3 separate regions of the Homo sapiens genome follow, and regions 1 and 3 are each reported to be linked to region 2. Evidence: microRNA targets listed by miRTarBase, many of them from high-throughput screens and not tested one by one. Region 2 holds a microRNA gene; each other region holds the end of a gene's coding sequence.
What was found. The annotated mature microRNA hsa-miR-4759 reads UAGGACUAGAUGUUGGAAUUA and lies in region 2 at 2,517-2,537, opposite strand. An mRNA with a match to its seed (bases 2 to 7 or 8) in the 3' UTR can be bound and repressed. Matches are read on the target gene's strand: a 7mer-m8 pairs with bases 2 to 8, a 7mer-A1 pairs with bases 2 to 7 and ends in A, and an 8mer does both.

Region 1: the mRNA of PSD3 is a reported target of hsa-miR-4759. The part of its 3' UTR that is shown has no 7-base or 8-base seed match.
Region 3: miRTarBase lists SIGLEC9 as a target of hsa-miR-4759. The part of its 3' UTR that is shown has no 7-base or 8-base seed match.

Annotation. Positions count from the first base shown.
Region 1 is chr8:18,532,469-18,536,527 of GRCh38, reverse strand. It overlaps PSD3 (pleckstrin and Sec7 domain containing 3), which reads left to right. Exons shown (of 16, transcript NM_015310.4): 16 at 570-4,059. The coding sequence ends at 785. Among named protein-coding and RNA genes, the nearest start is that of NAT2, 140 kb to the right of the region's middle.
Region 2 is chr21:26,952,436-26,956,501 of GRCh38, reverse strand. It overlaps MIR4759 (microRNA 4759), which reads right to left and starts at 2,541; the gene lies at 2,459-2,541. ADAMTS5 (ADAM metallopeptidase with thrombospondin type 1 motif 5) reads left to right here. Exons shown (of 8, transcript NM_007038.5): 2 at 1,631-1,763. RefSeq lists an enhancer at 1,068-2,494.
Region 3 is chr19:51,129,391-51,133,449 of GRCh38, reverse strand. It overlaps SIGLEC9 (sialic acid binding Ig like lectin 9), which reads right to left. Exons shown (of 7, transcript NM_014441.3): 7 at 3,140-3,559. The coding sequence ends at 3,371. Among named protein-coding and RNA genes, the nearest start is that of SIGLEC9, 6.5 kb to the right of the region's middle.

The sequences.
Region 1 (4,059 bases), not on the chromosome of region 2:
GGAGGGAAACCCAGAGCAGCTTCTAGAAGGTGGTATGGTCTCATAGGGGACTGACTGTCCAGGAGATTAGCCACGGAATGGTCCCTCAAGGCAAGCCTTTGTAGGGTTACAGGGAGTCAGAAAAAGAGTAAACAACCATATCCAAGCCAGTTTCTTGTGAGGCCTGGACTACCTGGGGAGGCTCAGGTGACTTTGGTACAGAGCCACAAGAGCCATGCAGCCGCCGAAAACCAGAGGTGACAGCTCCTCCAACTTAGACCCTTCTCATGCCTGAGTGTTCTAGATTCATGGTGTTCCATCTGGTAGCCAGCAACTCCAAGTTGACATTCTGTCAGAATCTAGAACAAATGAGAACTAAAATTCTAACTTAATTTCTTATCTACATAAGACAGTCTCTGTAGTTGCCTCTCATGTGCCCAGTAAGTGCCCAAGTAATTTGTCAGTTTGGGAAATGAAGCGAAGTCTTCAACAGCCATTCACACTCTCCAGGTGGGTAATACACAAGTGTGCTGCACACGTGCATTTTGAACAGTTTTCTGACTACCGTTGTTCTCTGGCTTTGCCTTCAGAAAACCCGCTATGAAATGTATGTCAGCATTCTCAAGGAAGGAGGCAAAGAGCTACTGAGTAACGATGAAAGCGAGGCTGCAGGACTGAAGAAGTCGCACTCGAGTCCTTCGCTGAACCCGGATACTTCTCCAATCACTGCCAAAGTCAAGCGTAACGTGTCAGAGAGGAAGGATCACCGACCTGAAACACCAAGCATTAAGCAAAAAGTTACTTAGAGTCCATCTGCGGCCAGGAAGTGCTGGTCATGGAGCAAAATAGGGTTTTTCAAGATCTTTCTGGTAATCCGTGAATATATTTAAAAAAAAAAAGTCTGTGACAAAACGGTGCATTAGTAATTTTTTCTATTGTATATTTTTGTTAGTTTCTGTACAGATTGTCTTTGCTCTTGATTTCTTTTGCTTTGATGATTTTTGCAACTTGATAGCTAATGCACCTTTTCTGTGAGGAGGAGGGGATCGTGATTTCAGAATGAATTATGTATCCCTTCTCTTTTGGTTTTCTCTTGTTTGCAGTCTGCTCAGTTGTTTTATGTATTCTCATATCAACTGTTAAACTTTTTTTTAAGGTTAAAGAATTTAATCCATTGTGAAACACTTAACTGGACAAACTGTAGTTTTAGTAAATTCTAGCTGGAGTTAATATACGCCTTTATATGTGAAATCTTGCCCAGTCACAGAGGTAGAATTGAGCACTCACAGATGCTCCAGTAAGAATCACAGTGCTGGGAATCTAGTTGCTCCAATATGAGGCAGCTTCATGTGCAGCTTAGCACTTGTTGTTGAGATCGGACCCTGCTGGAAGCAGGGAAAAGAAGCGTGAAGATCGTAGGATTGAGAACTTAGGGAAGCACATTAGCTTGCTTGAAGTGCTGATTCCATTTCAGCCAAGCAAGGGAAAGAGGAAGTGGAGTCATTTTGCCTTTGAAGGCTGAGGAAAGATTGATACCCAGTTAATTTTGTTTGCTAAAGGATGGGGGCAATAATCGGCCCTTGAGGAGCTGCAGCAGTAGGCATGTGCTCAGTCTGCAGGAATTGTTACCTCACTCCCACAGGGTCTAGACTAGAAATCCATCATCTCTATCGTTGATATCCTTCCATCCAGGAATAGATTTTTCTTACTCTACATATGTGTGTGTGCGTGCGTGTGTGTGCGTGTGTGGGCATGGGGTTGTGTCCTGGTTGTGATATTGAGGTCTTCCTTCCTAACAAATTAATACTAAAATGAAACAGCTTTTCTTGTGTCCTTAAGACAAAATAAGGAAGGAAAACGTAGCTGCAGTTGTCCACGATGGATATTGGTTCTTTAAAATATATCTGAAAGTAGTAGTCAGAATGAATTATGGTTGGAAAACTGAGGAATCTTCTGGTTGCAGGTGCAAAGTGACTTTGTTTATTCTTGTCTCAGTCTCCTTGATAGCCACTTCACTCTGCTACTACTCAACTTTCTCCTAAAAATACTTCATCTATTTTCAGTCCTTTCTTTCTGTCTACTCAAAATGGTTCTATTAACTTTGCAGTCATGAGCTTGTTCCAGTTACAGTCCCTTTGAAGTTCAGGGTGATAAACAGAATATTCTTCTGTAGAGGAAGAGAAAGGAGTGAAAGTTTAGCCCACTGAGACCTAGAGCTTTGTGATTTCCTAACCTTGAAACTCTGTAATCCCTAAAGTTAAAATCTCCGCAAGTGGCACAACTTCAGAACTAATAGTATCACTTTGATTTTTCTTTTTCCTCCCTTAGAAAGTTTCTCTAGTTCTATAGTTTATTTGTTGAAGGTACTATGACCAAAGAATCAGCTGCTCTACAGGAATAGCATGGTTCCAGTGAATTAGAGAAAACCTGCTGTAAAGCCATGGTAGTGTCTAAGTGGTATGTTATTATGATGTACTAGCATTTATTTACAGAATTATTTATTAACGTTTACTTCCTTCCCCTCTGTAAATGTCCATGACTATTGCCCAGAGAAGGCTTACCCCTCTCTAGGGTTGCAGTTGCTTTCTTTGTAATAAGTATTTTGCCACACCTGTAAAAAAAAAAACCTCACTTTTAACTCTCTGCCTTGTTTGGGTAAAGGCAGTAACTAAGTTTATGTTTCAGAACTGCAAAACAAACAGGATAGTTACCAATATGGCCCATGTATCAGATTGATTTTTGTAGCCTCTCACTGAATCCAACATATCCACAAGCAAGTTATCTGTCTTTCTACCTGATAATCTAAATTATCAGGATATTTGTTTTCTGCCTAAATGTTTATACTAAGCCGAGGGGAGAGAGGTACCTAGACCATGTCATCTACAAGCTTCAGTAACTAAAGAAAAAGGAACTTCCCTGAGTGGCTTGAATGTGTTTGCCCACAGTCTATATCTATGTATATAGAATGTCTGTATGTATTTTACTTATTTAATATACATTGAATGGTACCTTGCTACAGTATTTCTGACATTTAGAGTAGTGTTGAAATACTCGGCTAGCATCAGCACCACTATAGCACTGTCCGTGTCATATGAGTCACTAATATTAACTCCAGGGACTTCTGGATAGGCTAATAGATCATTGGATACGAAGGGCTCTTTTGAAGCTTCAGTATACCATGTTTGCATAGTTTATCTTTAAAAACAACTTTAAAGGTTCTTTTGTGAGCCAGGATCTCAGACTGCCGTAGCATGATGCTGTCCATCTTTAGCGCATGGGCTGAGAACACCTCTTCCCTGAGGCTTCTGAAGGTTGCTGTCTGTCATGAGTGCATGAAGGAGGCCAAGAGTTTATGCTATGGGAGGAAACAGTCACTGATTTGCCTAGATTCTGAGAGTCTGGCCCATAGCCAACCACATTTTCCTTTGGGATAATTTATTTCCTGTGGCATCTAGCCAGAAGAAATTGAGGATGTTTCCTTTCACAGCTGCTCCAAGCCTGTTGCCCAATTCACGGTACAAGGGAGCACCCCTTCCCTTTCCTCTGAAGGTACGCCACCCACCTCCGTCGCCCACCTCAGCGCCCAGGAGCCTTGGGACTTCCTTCCATATGATAAATCATTCTTCTTCACGTCAATACACTTCATATTAATTTCTAGTACAGAAAATCTTGACAGCTATCAGAATGCCTTGGTCATAGTGTTGTTGCAAAATTGACCATACAGGTGGCCCATGTATAAAATCTGAATTTTAGGGGTTTGTCCCCACCTCGCATGCTGGCTTTTACAGGGAGGTGTCTGGGATTCCTCATTAGCAATCAAAACTTAATTACTGGGATGCAGAGTCCTTACTTTATCGCCAGCCCGTAGGCATTTCTGAAGTGCACTTTTTTGAAACATCATTTTGCTAACTCTCAGCAGTGTCTAATTAAACTGAGCAATACTTTTGTGAATTTTAATTAATCTCAGCAAAACCATGATGGGAGAGAGTCCTCTGATGGAAATGTAGTCCCTGGATTATGTGTAACCTTTTTATTCCTCTTAGATGCAGAGGATAGAAAGCATTTTTTGGTGCAGTGGTC
Region 2 (4,066 bases):
AATTTCAATTTGAAAAACTACTGATTTGTACTCAACAGCTGTAATTTGGCATCCCATGGGATGACATGGGAGGATATACAGGAAACTTTGGAAGGCTGTTGGTTTTGTGACATGATTAACCAAGGCTACTTGGCTGAGATTTCCAGTGTCTAAAGCTACAGTAACTTGGTGGCCACACTGTAACTTATCTCAGCTGGGAACTCATAATAAACAGAACACAATAAGGACCTGAGAATGAAGTTAAGAGAAGAGAATACAGCTGAGTTTCTAAATACTCTTCACCTTGGTAGGATTTTTATGCAGCAAAATAGCAAAGGGTTAGAAGAGTATGTTGCCATTGAGTATGTAGCACTGGTTATGTAGTCACACTGCCTTGTACTGGTTGTCTGGAGCCTGCTGAGGTCCTGCTGGCATACAGCATATTAAAGATGTGGGAGCACTATAATGTATCTGACTGTAGGTCACAACTCAATGAAACAAATGTTTGCTGAGTTCCTACTATATAAGCTGGAGAATATGGAAGTTGGGCATACAAAAATGATTGTTGTATAATAGAAACATTTATTATTTTAACCAATAAACAGTTGTCTTTACAATAATTAGTATATTTTTAAAACTTTTCCTTTTAGAGTTCCTAACTTATGGCTTACTAGAAACACGATCTTGCTCTTTGGGAATATAAATGAGCACATTGTTAGTAAATTTTCATGGAAAATTGTGGTCAAGCACAAGAAATGCTAATGTCCATTAATACTCAAATAGCATTTAAAGGGAAAGTTTATCATTATGAATCTGTCATGTCAAAAAGTTGCGGCTTATATTTTCTCTTTATGTTTCATATCTCAAGAGGCTTGTTGAGGTCCCTTTCATCTAAATTGATCATTTTTCACCATTATTGGGGTGGAATCATGTTCCTATTTGAGAATCTCTTAAAAGATTACATGACATCTATGAAAAACTATGACTTTTTACCAGAAAAATGCATATATTCATGTATACACAATTAATATATGACATATATTTTCTGCAGATTGGTCAGGTTGAGAAATGCTACATTAAATGTTATGAGTAAGAAGGTACAGATTTCAGAAGACACAACCTATGAAATTACAGCTCATTTGGGGAGTAAAAGATGACCTTTCCTCAAATTATGAATTAAAATTTAGTTTTCTATCCAAATTTCTAATAAATTTATACTCTGCTGCAGACGTCTGGCTGCAGTTTGCCCCTGTAATAGAAAACAAATTATAAGGCCAGATTTTGATAAATTTAGCATGAATTTCCATCAGAATTTTAGGACTTTCCTAAGCATGACCATATGGGAAGGTGATCAGAGACGTATCTGCATTACGGCTTTGTTAAAGCTGCGGGTGCTATTGTAATAGACAAGTTACAATCCTAAGACATCTTTTTAAATGTAATTGAGTTCCATTATCCTTCTGTGTTTCTGGGCCCCAGAGCAGTTCAGAAGAGTCTCTGCCTTGAGTTTGCCTTTGGAACGTTTCCAGAGAGGAACAGGTGATACCATAAACATATCCCTGTTGCCATTTGGGGTAAGCAAGTGGCTCTATGTGGCGGCTCCTTCTGGATGTAAATTGATTTTAATGATTTCTTTCTTTCTCCTGGGCAGGATTTATGTGGGCATCATTCATGTGACACCCTGGGAATGGCAGACGTTGGGACCATATGTTCTCCAGAGCGCAGCTGTGCTGTGATTGAAGACGATGGCCTCCACGCAGCCTTCACTGTGGCTCACGAAATCGGTATGCAGCGCCTTTTCTTTTCCCTCACCAAATCAAACACTTGTAACAGCTGCAACAGGAACCAAAATACTTAGCAATTAATTCCAGATTTCTCCTGGTTCAGATGTACCACTGGGAATTAAATTTGTTTATATCTGCACTTTTAAGGTTAACTAATACGAGCGACAGGGAAGGCAAAGTCAGCAACACGGTGGATGTTTTCTTCTGACAGTGTCATTTAAAAGTTCAAGAGAAATTTGCTACTGCTACTGCCTTCTTACTATCTTTTTAAGCATCCGTAAATGACCCCTGGATGAAATTTGTCACAGGCAACTTTGGTATGCAGAGATGTCCTTCTTAGAAGTTACTGGAGACAGTACTGGCTCATCCAGGGCTAATCAGTTTGCACAGAAATTTAACATGTTTTATTTCATTGTCAGTGATAATTGTAGGCTCCTGTCAAAGGTCATCAATGGCTTATGGTAAATATTTCTGTCTTGTTCTTAATAGCAAGGAAAGGAAGCCAAGCCTGACACTCAACAGGGTTTGCTTTAAAATGTCACTTACCTAATTTGTTTGTTGTAAGAAACACATCTAAATCCTACATCTATAAATAGAGGACTGAGTTGATTGCTAAAAAATATTTCCAAAATAAAGAATATGTGCTTCCTAATTATTGACCTAGATTACTAGGTGTATGAGAAATTGGCTTAGTACATTTAGGACTAGATGTTGGAATTAGACACAATTTTTTGTGTCTAACTTTTTTCTGTCTAATTCCAACATCTAGTCCTAAATGAGCCCAATTTTTGCTAAATTACTTTATACCTATGTCACACTGGTCTAATTATTTAAACTCTCTGAGCTCCAGTTTTCATATCTGAAACATAGGGATAATAGTGCCTATTTCAGGGAATTATTTTGGGGAATATATTGGGTAGAGTTTAGATAGTAGATGTTATTTATATCCACATGTACTTATGTTTTGCTTTTTAGCTAAATAGTTCATTTGCTTTTGAAATGTATGTATCAACTCAGCATCACATTTTTGGGAGCAAAGCATGGTTTGATAATTATGGTACCTTTTGCCATCTATAGCAAAAAAGATTTTGATTTAAACAGATTTTGATTTTTAAGGTTAAAATTATAACTTTTAAATGGGAATTAAAACTACTTTTTTACATTCCTAATAGGCAGAGAATATTTTCACAAAGCATCCATTTCTAACTGCTATGTTTTCTTTGGGGAGTTAAATAACTTCTAATCCAAGGTACAGTGTAATTGCATAATTCACAATATTGCCGCAGTAAAACAGAATTCAGTAGTTAAATGTCAGTTCTTAAGTATGGCATTAATGTTCCTGACACGTTTCTTACCTCCTAAGCAGAAAAACACAAATATAAAACCTAAACGTAAATAATTATCCAATAGCATCACTGAGAATAATTCAGTGTTTTATTGATTAGGCGTCTTTGGCTTCAGTAGTCAAAGATCTGAGTGGAGTCCCAGCTCTGTCTCTGGGTTCTCTGTTTTATCTCAGACAAGTGATTTAGATACTTTGAGTCTCCATTTCTTCCCTATAAAGTGGGCTAATGAGGAGGCATGGCTGTCTTCTCAGCTGCACTAGAAGAACTGGTCAGCCTGAAAGCGTCTTTATAACACATGCCATTTAGGCTCCAGGGTAGGGATCATGTCTCTCATTTATGCCTATTAATCCTTACTGATAAAAACACAGCCTAATACAGAACCTTAATCAATATTTATTACGTATCTATGTATGTGCTTGACTGCGTAAGCGGGAGAAAGAAACATGAGACTTGCTCAAGGCAACATTCCGATCTGCACCGGAAACTAAGAGGAATTAGTCCAAATACTCAGGAGGATGTAATTAAATAGAGGAGACTTTTAAAGTACACTGGTAATTAATCACCATCATTCAGAGTGAGAGGAGTCCCATAAGAAAGGTTCTAAGTCCCTGGAAAGGCAGAAGCTGATTCGTCACAGGTCAAGCGGAGAAATTATGGGGAATAAGCAGCAGAGCTGAATGTTGGCGTCATCCATCCACAGGATTATGGGCTCCAAATCTTGATCTTCAAAAGGAAAGATTCCACATTCCTTAAAGGAAGGGCAGTTTCTTTCCTTTCTAGTGATTGGTTTTCACACATTGACTGCATCTGGGAGATTTCCCTGTAAGACAAACACTGTGGCAATAAGTGCAGCTTCTTCAGGGATGCTTTGACCTCAAGTTAACTAGGGAGGATTGAAGAGCCCTGCAGGGTCACCTTTCCCAGCTCTCCTGAATTCCTAAGGCAATCTTGGGTTAC
Region 3 (4,059 bases), not on the chromosome of region 2:
CACACCCAGCTAATTTTTTTTTTTTTTTTTTGTATTTTTGGTAGAGATGGTGTTTCACCATGTTATCCAGGCTGGTCTTGAACTCCTGACCTCAAGTGATCCACCCACCTCAGCCTCCCAAAGTGCTGGGATTACAGGTGTGAGCCACCGCGCCCGACCACCTACCAACATTTATTAAAAGTCTTTCCTGTCCCAATTGAATAGACTTGATGCTATTCAGTTGACTGTATATGTGTGGGTCCATTTGTAGACTGTACTCTAGTCCACACCACACTCTCTGTATTACTCTAGTGTTAAAGTCTGCCTTCTCTAAATGTGTTTCTTATCACAATGATTTGGTTATTCTAGGTTTTTATGTGTTTATATAAATTTCAGAACCAACTTATCAATTTATAACTATATATGTATATATATAAACTTATATTTACAATATACATACATATACACTCATCTATACTTATGTACATACATATACACATATACATATATTTTATATATATATAGGAATTTTGACAGGGATTACCTAAATCAATATGCAGACAACTGACATTTTAACCATTTTTGCCTTCTAATCCATGAACGTGATATATTTCTTCCTTCATTTGGGCCTTCCTTAAGTCTCTCAAAAATGTTCTATATTCATCAGTACAGAAGCATTCCGTGTTATCTTAGTTCATTTGTGTTGCTATAGAGTAATATCTGAGGCTGGGTAATTTATAAAGAAAAGAGGTTTATACAGCTTGTAGCTGCAGTGAACGCCAAGAATGAAGCACTCAGACAATTCCAGCTGAGCGGGATGCGGCGGCAGCAGCATCTCTGAAAGAGTGCCGCCCCAGAATCCGTCCGCCAAGTGTTTCTCGAAAGGGTTTGTTAAACCAAAATGTCCACCAGATGGCCTTTTGCGGTCGGGTCATGAGACACATATGGCCTGGTAAAAACACTCAGACTACAGTCTCAGGAGGCTGCTTTCCGCGCTCCTTATCACACATTCCGTTCCTTGCCCTGTTTTCAGGGTCAAGGAGTTTCAATCTCATGCACAAACAACACGCACACGGTGCCTCAGTATTTTTCCATGCCTCGACCTCAAATGCCTTGTACATAAGCTTGAATATGTTGCCGTGCACCCCCCACAGTTTATTTGGCTCACAGTTCTGCACCACATAGAAAATGCTTGGCACCAGCCTTTGCTTCTGGTGAGGGTCTCAGGAAGCTTCCACTCATGGTGGAAGGCAAAAGGAAGTCTGCATGTGCAGACAATACGGCAAGAGAGGAAGCACGGGCTGGGGAGGGGAGGTGCCAATGTCTTTTTAACACCCAGCTCTTGGAGAAACTCTCACAGGAAGTAACAGAGTGAGAACTCTCTCATTACCTTGAAGACAGCACCAAGCCATTCATGAGGGATCCAATCCCGGGACCTGAACACCTCCCATTTGGCCCCACCGCCAACACTGGGCATCAAATATCAACAGGAGGCTTGGCAGGGCCAAACAAACCATATCCAAACCATAGCATAGGATTTTTTTTTTTTTTTTTTGACACAGACTCTTGCTCTGTCGCCCAGGCTAGAGTGCAATGGCACAATCTCAGCTCACTGCAACCTCCGCCTCCCGGGTTCAAGCAATTCTCCTGCCTCAGCCTCCCAAGTAGCAAGGACTACAGGCATACGCCACCTCGCCTGGCTAATTTTTGTATTTTTAGTAGACATGGGGTTTCACCATGTTGGCCAGGCTGGTCTTGAACCCCTGACCTGAAGTGATTTGCCCTCCTCAGCCTCCCAAAGTGTTGGGATGACAGGCGTGAGCCACCACGCCCAGCTCGGATATGATTTTTTACTTATTTATTTATTTATTTATTTATTTTTTTTGAGACGGAGTCTCGCTCTGTCTCCCAGGCTGGAGTGCAGTGGCACGATCTCAGCTCACTGCAAGCTCCACCACCCGGGTTCACGCCATTCTCCTGCCTCAGCCTCCCGAGTAGCTGGGACTACAGGCACCCGCCACCACGCCCGGCTAATTTTTGTATTTTTAGTAGAGACAGGGTTTCACCATGTTAGCCAGGATGGTCTCGATCTCCTGACCTCGTGATCTGCCCACCTCGGCCTCCCAAAGTGCTGGAATTACAGGCGTGAGACACTGTGCCCGGCCATGATTTTTAAAAAATTGTTCCTTGGTACTTTACGGTTTTTTGATGCTGCCGTAAATGGGCAAGAGTCTAGATTTAGGGAAGTTTTAGTGCTTCCTCCAGTCCTTTGATTTCTTCCTATCAGGGCTACTGCATAAAGTGATTGTTGTGAGATGTCCCTTTCCTCGTTCGGGTGCTGCATGTAGGTAAATTTTTTTGGATCATGTTGTTTAATTTGCCAGATGATCCTGTGCCCCTTTGGAAACGTTTCTCATTCCCTGGGTTTGGCTTTAGAGGAGGGAGATCATGAGCTGCTGCTTCACTCTCTCCCTCAGCTCAACCCAGAAGTCCAATCCTTGAACTCCATTTTCAAAGACAGAGACAGAAGAAGGCCCAGGAGGAGGGCGTTCTAGGAGGAGGGTCCCCAGTGTGCAAGGACTGAGGTATGAACCAACAGGGCATGTTGCAAATGATTTGGAAAAGACCAGAGGGACCAGTGGGTTAAGTGGTGAAGATGGAGGAGTGGACTGAAGTGGGAGAGTGATGTCACGAAGAGGATGTGATGGGAGGTTCAGGATCCAGGAGCCATGGATGGGCTGTGAGCAGTGCGGAGAGAGCTCAGTGTGTCCTAAAGATTCCCACTGGACTGTGCACAATACGTAGACTGCAGAGAGTAAGGCGGCCTAGCAGTCACAGGGTGGGCAGATGAGGCTGAAGAGGTGGGCAGGATCCAGATGCTACCTAGACCTGATTTGCAGGCTGAGGTTATTTCCTGGAAAGTTGCAGAATCGCTATTTTGCAGGCAAGTGACACAGACATATAAGTACTAGTTGCCACCAGAATCAGGAGAGGTTCCCAGCAGGACCTTTGTGTTCAAAGCACAGCGATCCATCAGTGCTCGGCATACACCTGTGCCAGGAGCTCTAACGGGATGTGACTCCTGGAATGGTGACCACAACCTTGCAAGTAGGGCTTCTCATTCCTGTTTTACAGAGCAGGAAACCAAGGTACAGAGAGGTAGGAATTTGTCTGTCTTTTAGTTAAAAAAATAAAAGGGAGGGCACAGTGTGGATTCAGGTTTGAGATACTTTGACTCTAAAGCCTGTGTGCTTTTCACTCTGCACATAATTCATAGTGTTATCATAGCTCATCACGTTGAGGGCTGTTAATTCTACAAGAATCAGCCTCTGACTTCTCCCTTGCCTGGAGGGGCTGTGATCCCTCAATCAGGGTGAGTCTCTGCAGTTTCTCATCTGTGGATCTTGATCTCCGAGTACTCGGTGTCAGTGGCCTCCTGTCCCCGCGAGTCCCAAGGCTTCACCATCTGGAAGCTGAGGGATGCATACTGGAGCTCTCCTTCCCCCACTGAGGAGCGGGCAGAAGCTGGGGGAGGCTGGTCTGGGGGACTGTCTTCTGCCCAAGGTTCAGTCAGGGGCCCCTGAGACATGGGAGAGAGAAGTGAGTCAGAGCAGACAGTGAGGATGGGGCGCGGTGGCTCACATCTGTAATCCCAGCTCTTCAGGAGGCTGAGGTAGGCGGATCACCTGAGGTCAGGAGTTTGAGACCAGCCTGGCCAACATGGTGAAACCCTGTCTCTACTAAAAATACAAAATTAGCCAGGTGTGGTGGTGTGCACCTTTAATCCCAGCTACTCAGGAGGCTGAGGCAGGAGAATCGCTTGAACCTAGGAGGCAGAGGTTGCAGTAAGCCAAGATTGTGCCACTGCACTACATCCTGGGTGACAGAGCGAGACTCCATCTCAAAAAACAAAAACAAACAAACGAAAAAATGCACTTGAGGCAACAGCCTCACTCACTTCACCCTTGTTCTTGCCCTAGTGGAGAGGTAGGTGCTTAAAAGGTCAGAATGTGGCCGGTCACAGTGGCTCACGCCTGTAATCCCAGCACTTCGGGAAGCCAAGGTGGGCAGATCACAAGG